Homo sapiens: one gene and its partner. The protein of the gene in region 1 interacts with the protein of each later gene in a biochemical or structural test. Each region holds a gene or a part of one and is shown in the gene's direction. Other genes may lie near its edges.

Region 1 (7,272 bases):
ATCTCTACAAAAAATTTAAAAATTAGCCAGTCGTGGTGGCGAGCACCTGTAGGCCTAGCTATTCAGGAGGCTGAGGAGGGAGAATCGCTTGAGCCCAAGAGGTCGAGGCTGCAGCAAATGAGACATGATCGTTCCACTGCACTCCAGCCTGGGTGACATAGTGACAACTTGTCCCTGCACCTCCTCCACAAAAAAAAAATCTGCTTAGTTCTATAACATTAAAATAATAAATACATAAGAAAAAGAAAAATGTGCACCAGGCATCTTGGTGCAGGCAGTTAATTTCAGGGGTACATATCCACGTACCCATCATCCAGAAGCCCTGTAATTTAGAGGAAGCAATGTGAAAAGGGGACAATGACACAAGACAAAAGGAAGTCAAAGAGTGGCATGTTTTGGTCATCCTGACCCACCAGCCCATGGGGAGGACCGCAGGCTCCCCATCTTTCATCCCCACCACCTGACCCCTCTGTCTGGTTCATTCCTCTAGTGTCTCCAGTCTGGGAGACACTAAAGGGACATAGGACATTACTTGACCCTATTTATCTCATCCATCTGACCTTGCAGAGCTGTCTCCCAAGGTTACCCCACTGGATTCCACCCTTTAAGGCTCTGGAACTCAGCTCTTCCAGACCATGAGGAAGCTAGGCCTTGAGGATACTTCCATCCTTCTCTCACAGTCACATGGCATAGGTCACCCACAGGATGTCCCCAGCTAACCCAACCCAGAGAACCAAATCCAGCCCTATGCCGCTCATTCTTTGAAACCTGCCCTGGGGAAAGCCTGCTTCTCTGATGGCTCCTGAGCCACCTTGATGTCTGATCCAGATGAATCTATAGCTTCCTCTCCCTACTCATCACAGTGCTCTGATATTCCAGTCTCCTGAGCAAGCCACAGCCTGCCTTTATATGAACATTTGCATATCAAAGCCTCACATTTACATTTTATAACTTAGGCTCCTGGGAAACAGGTCAGAGCTCAGCCCCCAATCTACTAGCGTAGCCGGGAAAGAAGCATTTACCTGTGCAACCCCCACCAAAGATGTGCTGGAGGGTGTCAGGGAGTACGCTGCATGTGTCCACGAAGCTGTGTGTCCAGGAGGGGACTGTGAGCGTCCTGCATCCAAGAGTGTTCCTGTGTATCTCTGGCTCAGGTGTGGCCTCCATCTGGCCTGTTGTGTCTGCATGCCTGTGAGTCTGTGAGTTCAAAGTGTCTGCATGCCTGTGAGTCCATTTGGGGTGGTCCTCAGTCTGTTGTGGGGGGCCTTGGGGTAGATGTGTGTTTGTGAGGGCTCTGTTTCCTCATTTGTAAAATGGTAATGAAAATCCTAATACTTACCTCACAGGATCGTTATGAGGTTGCCTGAGTTAATGCAGGTCATGCACTTACAGCAGGGCATGGCTGTACATGTCGGTTATTGTGACTCGATTCCCAACAGAAATTCCAGCCCCTCTATACCCTCCCCACCAACTACTTCCAGTGGTGTAAGAGGCTAATGTTCCCCTTGGAAATATCACTGTTTTGAGCCTGGACATTCAATCAGAGGTCAGTGACAGCAGCAGTATCTTCTCTTAGCCTGAGGGAGGAAGGCCACTCAGCCTCTGCCAGGGCTGGAGAGGATTGGGAATGTGGAGGGGGCACTTACTCACCAGGGAGCCAGGGGCCCTCCAGAAGAATATAAGAACTCAGAACCTGCAGCCTGGGCAACATAGTGAGACCCTGTCTCTACAAAAACAAACAAACAAATGAACAAACACATTAGCCAGGCATGATAGTGCATGCCTGTAGTCCCAGCTGCTTGGGAGGCTGAGGTGGGAGGATAGCTTGAAGCCAGGAGTTTGAGGTTATAGTAAGCTATGATGGCACCACTGTACTCCAACCTGGGTGACAGAGGGAGACCCTCCTGTCTCTCAAAAAAAAAAAAAAAAAAAAAAAGGCTGGGCTTGGTGGCTCATGCCTGTAATCCCAGCACTTTAGGAAGCCAAGTGGATCACCTGAGGTCAGGAGTTTGAGACCAGCCTGACCAACATGGTGAAACTCCGTCTGTATTAAAAATACAAAAAATTAGCCAGGTATGGTGGCGGGCACCTGTAATCCCAGCTGCTCGGGAGGCTGAGGCAGGAGAATCGCTTGAACCCGGGAGGCGGAGGTTGCAGTGAGCCGAGATTGCACCTTTGCACTCCAGTGTGGGCAACAAGAGTGAAACTCTGTCTCAAAAACAAAAACAAAAAAACTCAGAACCAGAGGGGCACTGGCATCCCTAGAGAGGTCCCATCCTACTGAAGTGCCCAGTACCAACTTAAAGACCTACTGGACTCTTCTTCGTTGTCATGGAGACCACATCAAAGCTGCCTTCCAGGAAGAGCCCTCTGTCCTCCTCTCCACTTCTCTTGGCCAGAACTCACACTTGTCTCTAAACTGGTTCCATCCAGCCCAAAGCTGGGATTTGCTTGGGCTTGTTTCTCCTTCCTTGGGCAGGGTTCCTGCTAAGCTCAATTAATTTGGTCTTTATTGTACCTATTCACTACACAAGCATTTCATGCCACCCTCATAAGCATGCTAACAGGCTGAGGAGGACTTTCAGAGGCAAATGAGCTCTGGAGAGCTCTCCATAGATAAGGATGTCTATACCATGAGGCAGGATGAAAAACATCCACACCAGAGATATAGTCAAGAATGTTGTATATGGCTAAAGGAACTGATTCAGGCTATCATGGAAGGCTTCCTGGAGGAGAGGGACAATAGACATGAGCCTTATAGAATATTACAGCACCTATAGAAAGGGAAGTTTACTTCCATTTGCACAAGCAGATCTCATGGAATGAGCCCTTATGAACACTAAACAGCAATTGTATGTTTTAGCCTTAGTTCTGGCCAGACAGGCCCAAAGAGCTTACATGTGTCATTTCCTTCTCTGAAACTCCACTGCCTCATCTGTAAAGTGGCGGGTGTTAGGTTAGATGAATTTGGGAAGCCACTCCTGCTGGCCTGGCATTTGAACATTCTTTTGTGTTTATCACAAACAGGCAGGATAAAAAATCAGGCTGTCCTCAAAGGAGTGCATAGGCTGGAGACATAGAGAATTGTCTCAGCAAAAAGGCCTTTGAGGATTCATGTCCTTTGTGCCCCCATGGCCACAGCCCAAGCACCCCAGGTCCCCTCAGATGTCTGTCTTGGACATAGCTGCTTGCCTGGAACCCAGCACTGTATCTGACACGATAAATGTTTATTGAAAGAAGTGGTGAATGGATGAGATGACAGAGACTATGACCAGCTTCTTAGCTAAAACTGAAACCCATCCTGCCTCCAGATCATCAGAACCTTTGGGGCTTTTGCTCCTTTTGCTGGCTCTCAGATAAGAGGGAAGATGGCTGAGAGGGAGCTACACTTTCGGAAATCATCTACCCTGGGGCTTCTGGTTTCTGCTGCAATCAGTAGAAAGTGGGTCACAAAACAGCTCTGCAGAGAACAGACCCTTGAGGAAAAGCCTGGATTCTGTGCCAGTTTACATTTATTGATCACCTACTGTGTATCAGTTGTCACATAGCTTAACTCATTTAATCATGGCTTCAGAGGGGTGTACAGGAGAGTGTGAGGGATTTGAGGCTGTAAACCCCAGAGGTGCTGACTAGCTGAGTGACCTCAGGAGAGTTACCATCCCTCTCTGAGTTTCATTTTTAATATCTGTAAGATACAAACGATCCATTTCGCCGGGTTATGGGAACGAAATGAGCACGTGGAAGCGGAGCGCTTCATAAATGCTAGTTATTATTGTTCCTCTGGGCACACAAGCCCGGTCGCCTCCCTCCTGGGCGCACACAGACATGTTCATACTCCCACGTACACGCAGATGCAGAGACGTGTGCAGACGCCAGCCGGAGGAGCACGCGGCGCATCAGACCCAAGACCGTGGCGAGACGGTGAAGAAGCCGCGGGGTCCTCGGCTTCTCTCTTTTTCTCTCGGTTCTTTATGAATGAACTCCAGCCGCGAGTTTTATTTTTTTATGAATGGGAGCCGGAGCACTGAATGAAGCCGGGAGCCAACCCCTACATTCTGATTGGCCCCCGCGGCTGGGAAACTCCGCCCCCCGGCCAGGCCGGACGACTCTCCGGATTGGCGGGCGTGCCCAGCCCTGGGGTTCCATTCACAAAAGTCAATGAAACAAAGGGAAACGGGGGGCGGTGTGGCGGGGCGGGGGGTGGAGAGCTGAGGCCGAGCGAAGGAAATGCACCAATCAGCTGCTCCCCCGGGCTCACAACTGTCTGCTGCGCCCGAAAAACAAGTCGGTGCGCTGGGGACCCGGGGCCGGGGCCGCCTTACTCCGGCCTAGCCCCGCGGCCCTCGGTGCGGGCTCCAGGGCATGCTCGGGACCCCCCGCGGCTCCAGCCCAGACGCCCCGGCCTCAGGTGAGGCTGCGGGAGGGAAAGGGAGGGAGAGTGTCTGTGATTCCCCGCCTCGCCTCCAATGCACACCACACTCACTCTCACCACCCGCCTCCGCAGATTCCAGGGCGGGGGTGGGAGGTGCTGGGATTCAGGGTTGGAGGGGGCGCGGGAGTTGTGGGCATGCGATGGTGTGCGCTTCGCCTGCTCCTCCGCGCGCGCGCGCGTACACACACACACACACACACACACACACACACACACACACACACACGTTCTTATGTAACCGAGCCCGGGTAAAGCAGGGCTGCAGAAAGCAGAAACGGCGAGCCCGGCTCCTGGGAGCAGGTGGGACCTCCTTTGGCCTTTGGCGGGAGGGGAGTGGTGGTGGCGCTCGGCCTGGCAGGCGGAAACCTCGCCATCGCCCCAGTGAGTCGGAGAAGTTTCGCCGTCGGACCCAGAGCCTTGGGACTGCCCCCTCCCCGCCCCCATCGCAGCCCTCCCTGGACGGTGTGCGAACGCAGCCCCCTCCCCCACCAGGTCTCGGCCCCCGCTTGGGGCCCCGGCCGTGCGGCCGGAGGGAGCGGCCGGATGGAGCGGAGGATGAAAGCCGGATACTTGGACCAGCAAGTGCCCTACACCTTCAGCAGCGTGAGCGCCGCGCCGGCCTCCACGCCCGCCCCGCCCCGCACCCAGCCCCTACTCTCACCACAGCCCCCCTCCCCGCAGTCCCAGCGGAGTCCTGGGCTGCCCCGCCCCTGAGTCACCCGAGGACCCCAACCTCGTCCCCCAGACTAAGCGCCTCAGGGTGACTCGCGGGCATTCTCCCCGCTTCTCGCAGAAATCGCCCGGAAATGGGAGCTTGCGCGAAGCGCTGATCGGCCCGCTGGGGAAGCTCATGGACCCGGGCTCCCTGCCGCCCCTCGACTCTGAAGGTAAAGAGCAAGAGAGACAAACCGCGACCCTCCTCCGCCACACACACACACACACACACACACACACACACACACACACGGCCGATTCTGGAACCCCCGCCTGTTTCCCCAAAAAACTCGCCCTCCAAGGGATTTTGGTCATTCTTCTCGGTCCCTACTCCCAAGGCAGGGGAGTCACCGGGTCTTGCTAGGGCCCCTTCTCTCTTACCGTCCCCTCCACCTCACCTCCAATTCCACTATTTACCCCTCAGATCTCTTCCAGGATCTAAGTCACTTCCAGGAGACGTGGCTCGCTGAAGGTGAGTAGTTTTGTGACCTTTTCTATTTTGGGAGGCTGGACAGGGGGACACTCCGTAGCCCCTGGTATTCCACCCTAAGCCCTACACTTCTCCTCTCCCTTCCCTGCCTCAAGGAGTTCTCCAAGGCCCTCTCCCCAGGTCCCTTGCCACTCTACTCACCCCAGCACCCAGCGTGGACACTTATATTGATATTTATTTTCTCTACCCTGAGCCAGGCTTGTGTAACTAGGCTTGAGGATGAATCAGACCATTGTGTGGGGTATTTGCTTATTTGAATGGAACTTGGCCCCAGGCCCATTTTCCTGGTTGAAATTTTCATTTGTAAAGTTTGTTTTGCAGAAGCCGCCAGGCCAAGGTGCATGTTGGGGTGTTGTTGGTGGGGGGTGGGGGGAGAAATTAATTTGTCACTCATCCTCCAGAGTTGCCCAAGCATTGATTCTTATCCCCTGGGTTTCTCTTCTTCCCAACCCCCAGCACCAAACAATTTACTGTCCAAGCCAAAAGAACAACAAAAGTTTAAATAATTCTTTTCGGCAGTCCTTTGGCACAGAGAGCCCAGGGCTCCCTCCCCAAATAGCCTTGATTGTAATTCTAATAGCAAGTGTTCCTCCCTCTTCCATCCCGCTTGAATACCTCTGCCTCCAGGCAAATTCCCCCCTTCCTGTGTGCTGGGGAGTTAGCTGTGAGCTGGCTGGGGTGGGGTCCGTGGCTGGGTCCGTGGCTGGGTCTGATGGGGAAGTGGTGTGTTCAGGAGGTTTCCTGGTTGGATTCTTCAGTGCGTTTTGGTGGGGCCTGAGGGTGTCGCTGGTGGGGCTGCAGGTGGGAGGGAAAATGGTGGTTTAGACAGTCTCTGAGAGGGAAGGGTTAACTACCCCCATCTTAGGGTTTATTTTAACACTATGAAAATGAAGAAGCCAAAACACTAGGAACTCCTTTTTTGAGGTCTTTTTGAGGTATTTTCCTTAGGATCTCCTCATCCCTCCACCCTGGGTATCTAATTTTTTTAAAGCTCAAATCCAACTACCCTGGAACTCTCCATAGAAGCTCGGAGTAAAAAGAAAATGACCCCTGACTAGATCCTTGGAGTGAGACTAGGTCTGTCTTGCCCACTATGATATTCTAAAAATATATATGTTGACAGAATGACTATTTAGCATAGAGCAAGCACTCAAGACATTTTGTGGAAATAATGGCTGAATGGCTGTGTGAGTGCTGGAGGGATCTGGAGGTTCTGAGGGTATTGTGTGCATCATCCCCGACCCTGCAAGTCCTGCATGCCCAGCTCCAATTTACAGGCAGAGCTTTGCCCCGTCTCCCCATCCTTCTTCTGAGGTTCTGGAGCTGGGCTAGAGCTGAAGAATGCAGAGGTGTCAGTTTCCGTGGGCTCTCAAAGACTTCCTTTCCCAGTGCCTGATTTCTCTCTGGCTCACCGGGCTTCATTCCTTGCCTGTCAGCTGAGAGTCCCCACAGTGGGCAGCTCCTAGGGCTGTGAGCTAGGGGTGGGCTGAGGTTGGCATTTTGGCAGCAGCTGGTCCATCTGTGCCTGGGTTTGAGATGGGAGGGGGAGGAAAATGCTCTCATCTCTCTACCTTGGAAGTCCCACCCCTTGGCCAGGGGTCTGGAGAGGGTACAAATGTCTGTCTGTGTCAGTGTC
Region 2 (7,024 bases), on another chromosome or scaffold:
GGAGTCTTGCTCTGTCACCCAGGCTGGAGTGCAGTGGTGAGATCTCGACTCTCTGCAACCTCCGCCTCCCAGGTTCAAGCGATTCTCCTGCCTCAGCCTCCTGAGTAGCTGGGATTACAGGCGCCCATCACCACGCCCGGCTAATTTTTGTATTTTTAGTAGAGACAAGGTTTCACCATGTTGGCCAGGCTGGTTTCGAACTCCTGACCTCAGGTGATCCACCTCGGCCTCCCATAGTGTCGGGATTACAGGCGTGAGTCACCGCGCCTGGCCCCCCAGCTGTTTTTTATGCTCCATGCTTGGGCTTCCTGTTAAGAATTAAAAAAGAAAAAAAAAACTATGGAGATGGAATTTACATACTGTACAACTCATTCGTTCACAGTGTACAATTCAGTGGCATTAAGTACATTCACACGGCTGTGCAACCACTACTTCTAATTCCAGAACGTTCGGTCACCCCAAAAGCAAGCCCCATTCCCATTGTGTCACTCTCCATCCCCTCCACCAGCTCCTGGCCACTCTGAATCCACTTCCTGGCTCTGGATTGGCTTGTCCTGGATATTGCATAGAAATGGGATCCTGTCGGCCGGGCGCGGTGACTCACGAGAGCAAGAGATCCAGACCATCCTGGCCAACATGGTGAAACCCCATCTCTACTAAAAATACAAAAATTAGCTGGGCGTGGTTGCGGGCACCTGTAGTCCCAGCGACTCAGGGGCTGAGTCAGGAGAAATCGCTTGAACCCGGGAGGCAGAGGTTGCAGTGAGCTGAGATCATGCCATTGCACTCTGGCCTGGCGACAGAGTGAGACTCCGTCTCCAAAAAAAAAAAAACAAGAAATGGGATCCTGTCATCCCAGCGTTTTCCGAGGCCGAGGTGGGCAGATGACTTGAGCCTAGTAGTTCAAACGAGACCAGCCTGGGCAGCACGGTGAAACTGTCTCTACTAAAATACAAAAATTAGCTGGGCATGGTAGCACACGTCTGTAGTCCCAGCTACTTGCGGGGCTGAGATGGGAGGATCGCTTGAGCCTGGGAGGTGCACTCCAGCCTGGGCGACAGGGAAACCCTGTCTCAAAAAAAAAAAAAAAAGTGCATCACACACTGTGTGTCCTTTAGTGTCTCACTGTGACATCCTCAAGGTGCAGCTAGGCTGTGGCTCGAGTCAGAGCCTCACTGGTTTTTGTGGCTGAGTCTTGTTGAGTGCGTGGATGGGCTGTGCTGATCCTCGTCTGTGGAAGGGCCCCTGGGTGGTTCCACATCTCGGCTGCTGTGCGTCCTGCTGCTGTGAGCATCTCGTGCTCCGTTTCTGCGTGGCGTGTACTGTTCCTCAGGGTGTGTACCTGGGAGTGGAGCTGCTGGCTCACAGGGTAACAGACCTTTGGAGAAGCTGCAGACGCTTCCACGCCCACCCACTGGGTGTGAGGACCTTGCTCCTCGTCATTTTTGTTTTTGTTTAATTTTTTCTTTTATGAGACAGGGTCTTATTCTGTTGTCCAGGCTGGAGTGCAGTAGCACGATCACAGGTAACTACAGGCTCAAGTGATCCTCCCACCTGAGCCTCCCGAGTAGCTAGGACTTGAGGCACGTACCTCCACACCTGGCTAATTTTTGTATTTTTAGTAGAGACAGGGTTTCGCCGTGTTGCTCAGGCTGGTCTCGAACTCCTGAGCTCAGGTGATCCACCCGCCTCGGCCTCCTATAGTGCTGGGAGAAATGAAGTGTCTGCGACAGGGCGGCAGCTGCAGAGGGGGCTGTGCTCTCTGGCCTGTTGTGCCCCACCCTTGTGACAGGCAGGTGGGCGTGGCCAACTGGGCGGCAGCTGCAGAGGGGGCAGTGACAGGCGGGTGGGTGTGGCAGGACCCCACAATGTCTCTTTCTGTGGCGTCTCCTTCTTCGCCTGCCCCTTCCTATGGGCCATCCTTCCAGCTCACCTGCGGCCCACCCTCCAAGGAGTGGGACCCTCGGAGTTGGGAGCCCTTGGCTGCGTGGGACTGTACTGTGTGACGGAGCCATCACCAGGGCTCCAACTCACCCTGGCTCCTGCCACAGTCTGGGCTCCATCTGTGCTACCATTGCAGTAGTCTGGTTTCTAGGAAGCAAAACTGTTACTGAGTTACAAAGCTCAATTAAGAGTGTCCTTTGGGAGGCCGAGGCGGGCGGATCACAAGGTCAGGAGATCGAGACCATCCTGGCCAACATGGTGAAACCCTGTCTGTACTAAAATACAAAAAAATTAGCCGGCTGTGGTGACACGTGCCTGTAGTCCCAGCTACTCGGGAGGCTGAGGCAGGGAAATCACTTGAACCTGGGAGGCAGAGGTTGCAGTGAGCTGAGATCGGGCCACCGTGCTCCAGCCTAGGGACAGAGCAAGACTCTGTCTCAGAAAAAAAAAAAAGTGTCCTAACTGTGTCCTCCAAAGCCCTCGCCGGCCGATGACAGACTAGAGGGCGCTGTGCTCCCACCCCCTACCGCCCTGAGCCTGGACGCGTGGCCCCTGCAGGGCCCTTTCCCACAGCACTGTGAACTCACAGCTTCTCTCTAGGGAAGGGAGGAGGTACGCCACTTCCACAGGGAGATGGGGAGGCCGACTCCAGGGATCCAGGCCATCATCCTGACGTTGGGTCGGCTGATACACCCCTGTCCTCTCTGTCCCAGGGAAATTCAACTACTGAGGAGGTTACGGCACAAAAATGTCATCCAGCTGGTGGATGTGTTATACAACGAAGAGAAGCAGAAAATATATCCTTTCCGGTGTTGGGACCGCGGGGCCTCCGTGGGAGGGGCTGGGGCCCTGGGTCCGCCTGCCTCGAGGCCTGCTCCTCTTCCCGTCTCCTTGAAGGAGACTGGCACACGAGGGCCGTGGCCTTCCCTGGTTCCCCGGAAGTCAGCCATTGTGGCAATGGCTGCGCAGCTTGCTGAAAGGGGCCCTGAGCCCTGGCCCCTGTGTCTTGGGCCCGTGGGGTGTCAAGTCCCTTTTTTCTCAGAGTCTCCTCCCAGGCTAACCAGGGGTGTAGCCACGGTCTGCCTGAGACAGGCCACGCGGGCTGACCGTTGTGGGCCATTTTGGTCGTGGCTGGGCGTGTCCTCGTGTCATCTGTGGACACCCCCATGGGTCTTACGGGCACAGCCTCCCTACGGGGACTTTGCTTCCTAAGGCCCTGTGCCCAGAGCAAGAGCCAGAAGTGGTCCTGAGGCTGGGGCTGTGTTCCCTGAGCCACGCGGTCAGGGGCCCTGGGACCGTCCTGCATGGGCCCGAGCCTGCTTGGGGGGGCGTCCAGGAGGCACCATCCCCCGCCCATGGGCAGGGTGGGGGACGTGAGCCCCGCAGGAACGCTGCCCCAAGAGTCAGCCCTGTCCTCCCCTTCCCCGTAGGCTCCTTCCTCCTGGGACGCTGGGGCCCCTGGGCCTTTTCAGAGGGGTGGCTGAGGGCAGGGTGGGCCCTGGTCCCGAGGAGGGGCAAGGTGGGTGCAGAGGGTCCCTCCAGAGCCCCTTTTCTGGCCCCCGTGCTCCCTGGGCCTGTGAGTGGGGCCGCCCCCTGAGCTGTGTGTCCTTAGCGCCCCACGTATATGGTGATGGAGTACTGCGTGTGTGGCATGCAGGAAATGCTGGACAGCGTGCCGGAGAAGCGTTTCCCAGTGTGCCAGGCCCACGGGTGCGTGCGCGGGGCAGGGGCCAGGGTGGGGCGGGGGCCGGGGGCCAGGCAGGGCAGGCTCCTTTCCGTGAGGCCACACTGCTTGTCCTGATATTCATTGACATGAAGGCCCAAGTTTTTTTGTTTTTTTGTTTTTTTGTGTTTTTTTTCGAGATGGAGTCTCACTCTGTCGCCCAGGCTGGAGTGCAATGGTGCGATCTCGGCTCACTGCAAGCTCCGCCTCCGAGGTTCACGCCATTCTTCTGCCTCAGCTTCCCGAGTAGCTGGGATTACAGGCGCCCGCCACCACGCCCGGCTAATTTTTTGTATTTTTAGTAGAGACGGGGTTTCACCGTGTTAGCCAGGATGGTCTCAAACTCCTGACCTCGTGATCCGCCTGCCTCAGCCTCCCAAAGTGCTGGGATTACAGGCATGAGCTACCACGCCCGGCCTTGTAAAGGCCCAAGTTTTTAAAAACAGTTTTGGGGTCCCCCATGTGTGGCATCCACAGGCAGGGCTGCTGCCAACCTCCCGCCTCCATCTTTGCTGGGCCTGCTGCCTGAGGCCAGTGGCCTGCTTCCAGCCCATCGCTGGCAGCCGCCTGCCCTGACCAGATCTCCTGGATGCAGGTCTGTGGCCTCAGAGTCAGGGCCCCTTGCTGCTGCAGGACCACAGGGGCAGGGAGGGGCCTGCTGTTCCAGCAAGACTTTGGGGTGCAGCCGGCCTGTGGCCCACAGGAAAATGAGACCTGTGGACATCCGGGGCCCTGCCAGACGTGGCTCGGCCGGACGAGGGTGGCCACTGCAGGCGCAGGTGTGGCTCCCTGCTGGACCTAGCCTTTCCTCTGTCCTGTGTGCCTGGACTTCTGTGACTTCCCAGCTGGGCCTGTGGTGTTTGGGAGGCTCCCAGGCAGCTGCAAAGGGGACCCCTGTGAGGGGCAGGGAGGCCTCGGCCCCAGGACGGGTGTGTGCTGCCCGCAGGTACTTCTGTCAGCTGATTGACGGCCTGGAGTACCTGCATAGCCAGGGCATTGTGCACAAGGACATCAAGCCGGGGAACCTGCTGCTCACCACCGGTGGCACCCTCAAAATCTCCGACCTGGGCGTGGCCGAGGTAGGCACGTGCTAGGGGGGGCCCTGGGGCGCCCCCTCCCGGGCACTCCCTGAGGGCTGCACGGCACCGCCACAGGCACTGCACCCGTTCGCGGCGGACGACACCTGCCGGACCAGCCAGGGCTCCCCGGCTTTCCAGCCGCCCGAGATTGCCAACGGCCTGGACACCTTCTCCGGCTTCAAGGTGGACATCTGGTCGGCTGGGGTCACCCTGTAAGTGCCCCGCCCCCCCGGGCACTCACCACACGCACACTCCGAGGGGCCTCTGCGTCTTGGGCAGCTGCCGGCCTGTGGGCGCAGGGCGTGGCCACCGGCCCAGACCCTCTCTGGCCACAGCCGCTAGGGGGTGCTTACTTTATGGAAATGTAACTCATACGGCAGATGGTGGTTCACCCGTGTGAAGTGCAGCCTGGCCCGTCAGGGATCTTCACAGAGTGGCACGGCCGACCCTCCTCCCAGAGCCCCACAGGGAAGCTGGGCGGGTGACAGCAGCTCCAGGCCCCTTCCCCGGGTGGGTCCAGAGGACACTCCCCTCCTACCCCGTAGCCTCCACTAGTGGAAGGTGGTGAAGACAGAGGTGTCCTTGAGTCCACAGGGCCTCTGGTCCAGCAGCCACGGGACGCCTCTGTCCCTGGGGTAGAGCTGGGGCTCCTAGGGCGTCAACCACCTTGACTGACCACGCCTTTCTTCCCTCCCCTCGAAATGAAGCTACAACATCACCACGGGTCTGTACCCCTTCGAAGGGGACAACATCTACAAGTTGTTTGAGAACATCGGGAAGGGGAGCTACGCCATCCCGGGCGACTGTGGCCCCCCGCTCTCTGACCTGCTGAAAGGTGGGAGCCTCATCCCTCTGCCCGCAGCCCCAGGGAGGCGGGGCTTTTGTGCAGAAATGTAGGGTTGGGGGTGTCAGGTGGGGGGCTATTGGCCCCGAGACCCCAGCAGGCATTGAGAGGACTGAGTGGAGAGGCCGACCTCCCCGCAGGGCCTGGTTTGCCAGGTCCCTCAGCTCCACCCTGCTTCTGGGCCCTGTTCACCCTCCGAACTCCCACCCCAGAGGGCAGTGCTGCCCTGCGCCTCCCCCAGCCCCACCCTCGGGGGCTCCCTGGCTTGCAGGGTCTGTCAGGGTTGTCCTGCTGCACTTCCTACGCATGGCAGCAGGTGGCACTGGCCGTCCGTCCATCTGCCCAGTGGCCTTGGGAGAACGGAACCGCCCTGGCCGTCCAGCCCAGCCCTGTCTCCCTGCCAGCCGCGCACAGGCTGTCCCCGGCATGTCCCAGGAGTGGAGTGGCCTCTGTCAGGGAGACCGCCTGTGCGCGGGGTCCCCCTTAGGAGCGTCCAGGTATCACCCAGGGCCTGACAACAGAGGCTGGGCAGGCGGGGACGGTTGGTGGGGTCTCAGGCCTGTGCCCAGCTGACAGGCTCCTCGCCGGCTTCTCCTCAGGGATGCTTGAGTACGAACCGGCCAAGAGGTTCTCCATCCGGCAGATCCGGCAGCACAGGTGAGCGGCCCCTGGGGGCAGTGGGGCCGAGGCTGCAGGGAGGCCGGCCATGTGGGCAGCTGGTTGAGCGGGCGCTAGAGCAGGGCGTGGTGGGGGTGCCAGGCTGGGCTGGGGCCAGACCCCGTGCAGCGCCCGCAGTTCTCGGGGCCCGAGTGGGGTCTCTGGGCAGTGTCCTGTTACCGGCCAGACCCAGGCGCCTTGTCCGAACTGGGGTCTGAGTGAGGACATGCGTCCGTCCCTGCCCTAGGCATGGAGATGCGCCAGGAAGGGCACAGCTGGTCCCAAACACTGGCGAGAGCCTCTCTTTTTCCCCTCCTCCTGGGGCTCCCAGCAGCAGGGTGTGGCTGGGATCCAGCCCAGGGCCCCCAGCTCCATGACAGGGAAGACAGAGCAGCGGACGGGGTCAGCAGGCCCCACAGTGCCGCCTCCCTCACTTCGTGGGCTCTGCTCCTCTGCACCAGCCCCTGGAGGCCCTTGAGCCGTCTGCTGGAGCCCCTCCGAGCCCCGAGGCCACCCACTGAGACCGGCTCTGGGAGTGGGAGTGTCCGGACCCCTGAGGCGCTGGTGCTGATTGTGCCTTGGGGGTCTCTGCACAGCTCGGGTCATCTGGGCGCCTGGCGGGGACTGGGGCTGCCCCCCGATAGCCTCCTGGGCTGGGATGTGCTCAGGGCCCCCCAGACCCCCTTCTGGCCTTTGCTGGCTTTGCAGCCAGCATCCATCTGGTGGGTGCTGGCTTCTGAGTGCCACCTGGGACACAGGCCTCAGGGTGGAGGGGAC

Evidence for each region.
Region 2: of the proteins of ETV4 (region 1) and STK11, one has a biochemical effect on the other in vitro, tested with the Homo sapiens proteins (one study listed by BioGRID).

What each region holds. Positions count from the first base shown.
Region 1 is NC_000017.11:43,543,321-43,550,592, reverse strand, and holds the start of ETV4 (ETS translocation variant 4), read left to right. Parts: upstream 1-4,252; 5' UTR 4,253-4,408; intron 4,409-4,693; exon of another isoform or gene 4,694-4,813; intron 4,814-4,924; 5' UTR 4,925-4,975; coding exon 4,976-5,035; intron 5,036-5,225; coding exon 5,226-5,319; intron 5,320-5,570; coding exon 5,571-5,618; intron 5,619-5,793; exon of another isoform or gene 5,794-6,431; intron 6,432-7,272.
Region 2 is NC_000019.10:1,215,760-1,222,783, forward strand, and holds part of STK11 (serine/threonine-protein kinase STK11), read left to right. Parts: intron 1-508; exon of another isoform or gene 509-639; intron 640-2,657; coding exon 2,658-2,741; intron 2,742-3,564; coding exon 3,565-3,654; intron 3,655-4,613; coding exon 4,614-4,746; intron 4,747-4,821; coding exon 4,822-4,958; intron 4,959-5,453; coding exon 5,454-5,581; intron 5,582-6,189; coding exon 6,190-6,247; intron 6,248-7,024. UniProt on the Homo sapiens protein: Tumor suppressor serine/threonine-protein kinase that controls the activity of AMP-activated protein kinase (AMPK) family members, thereby playing a role in various processes such as cell metabolism, cell polarity, apoptosis and DNA damage response.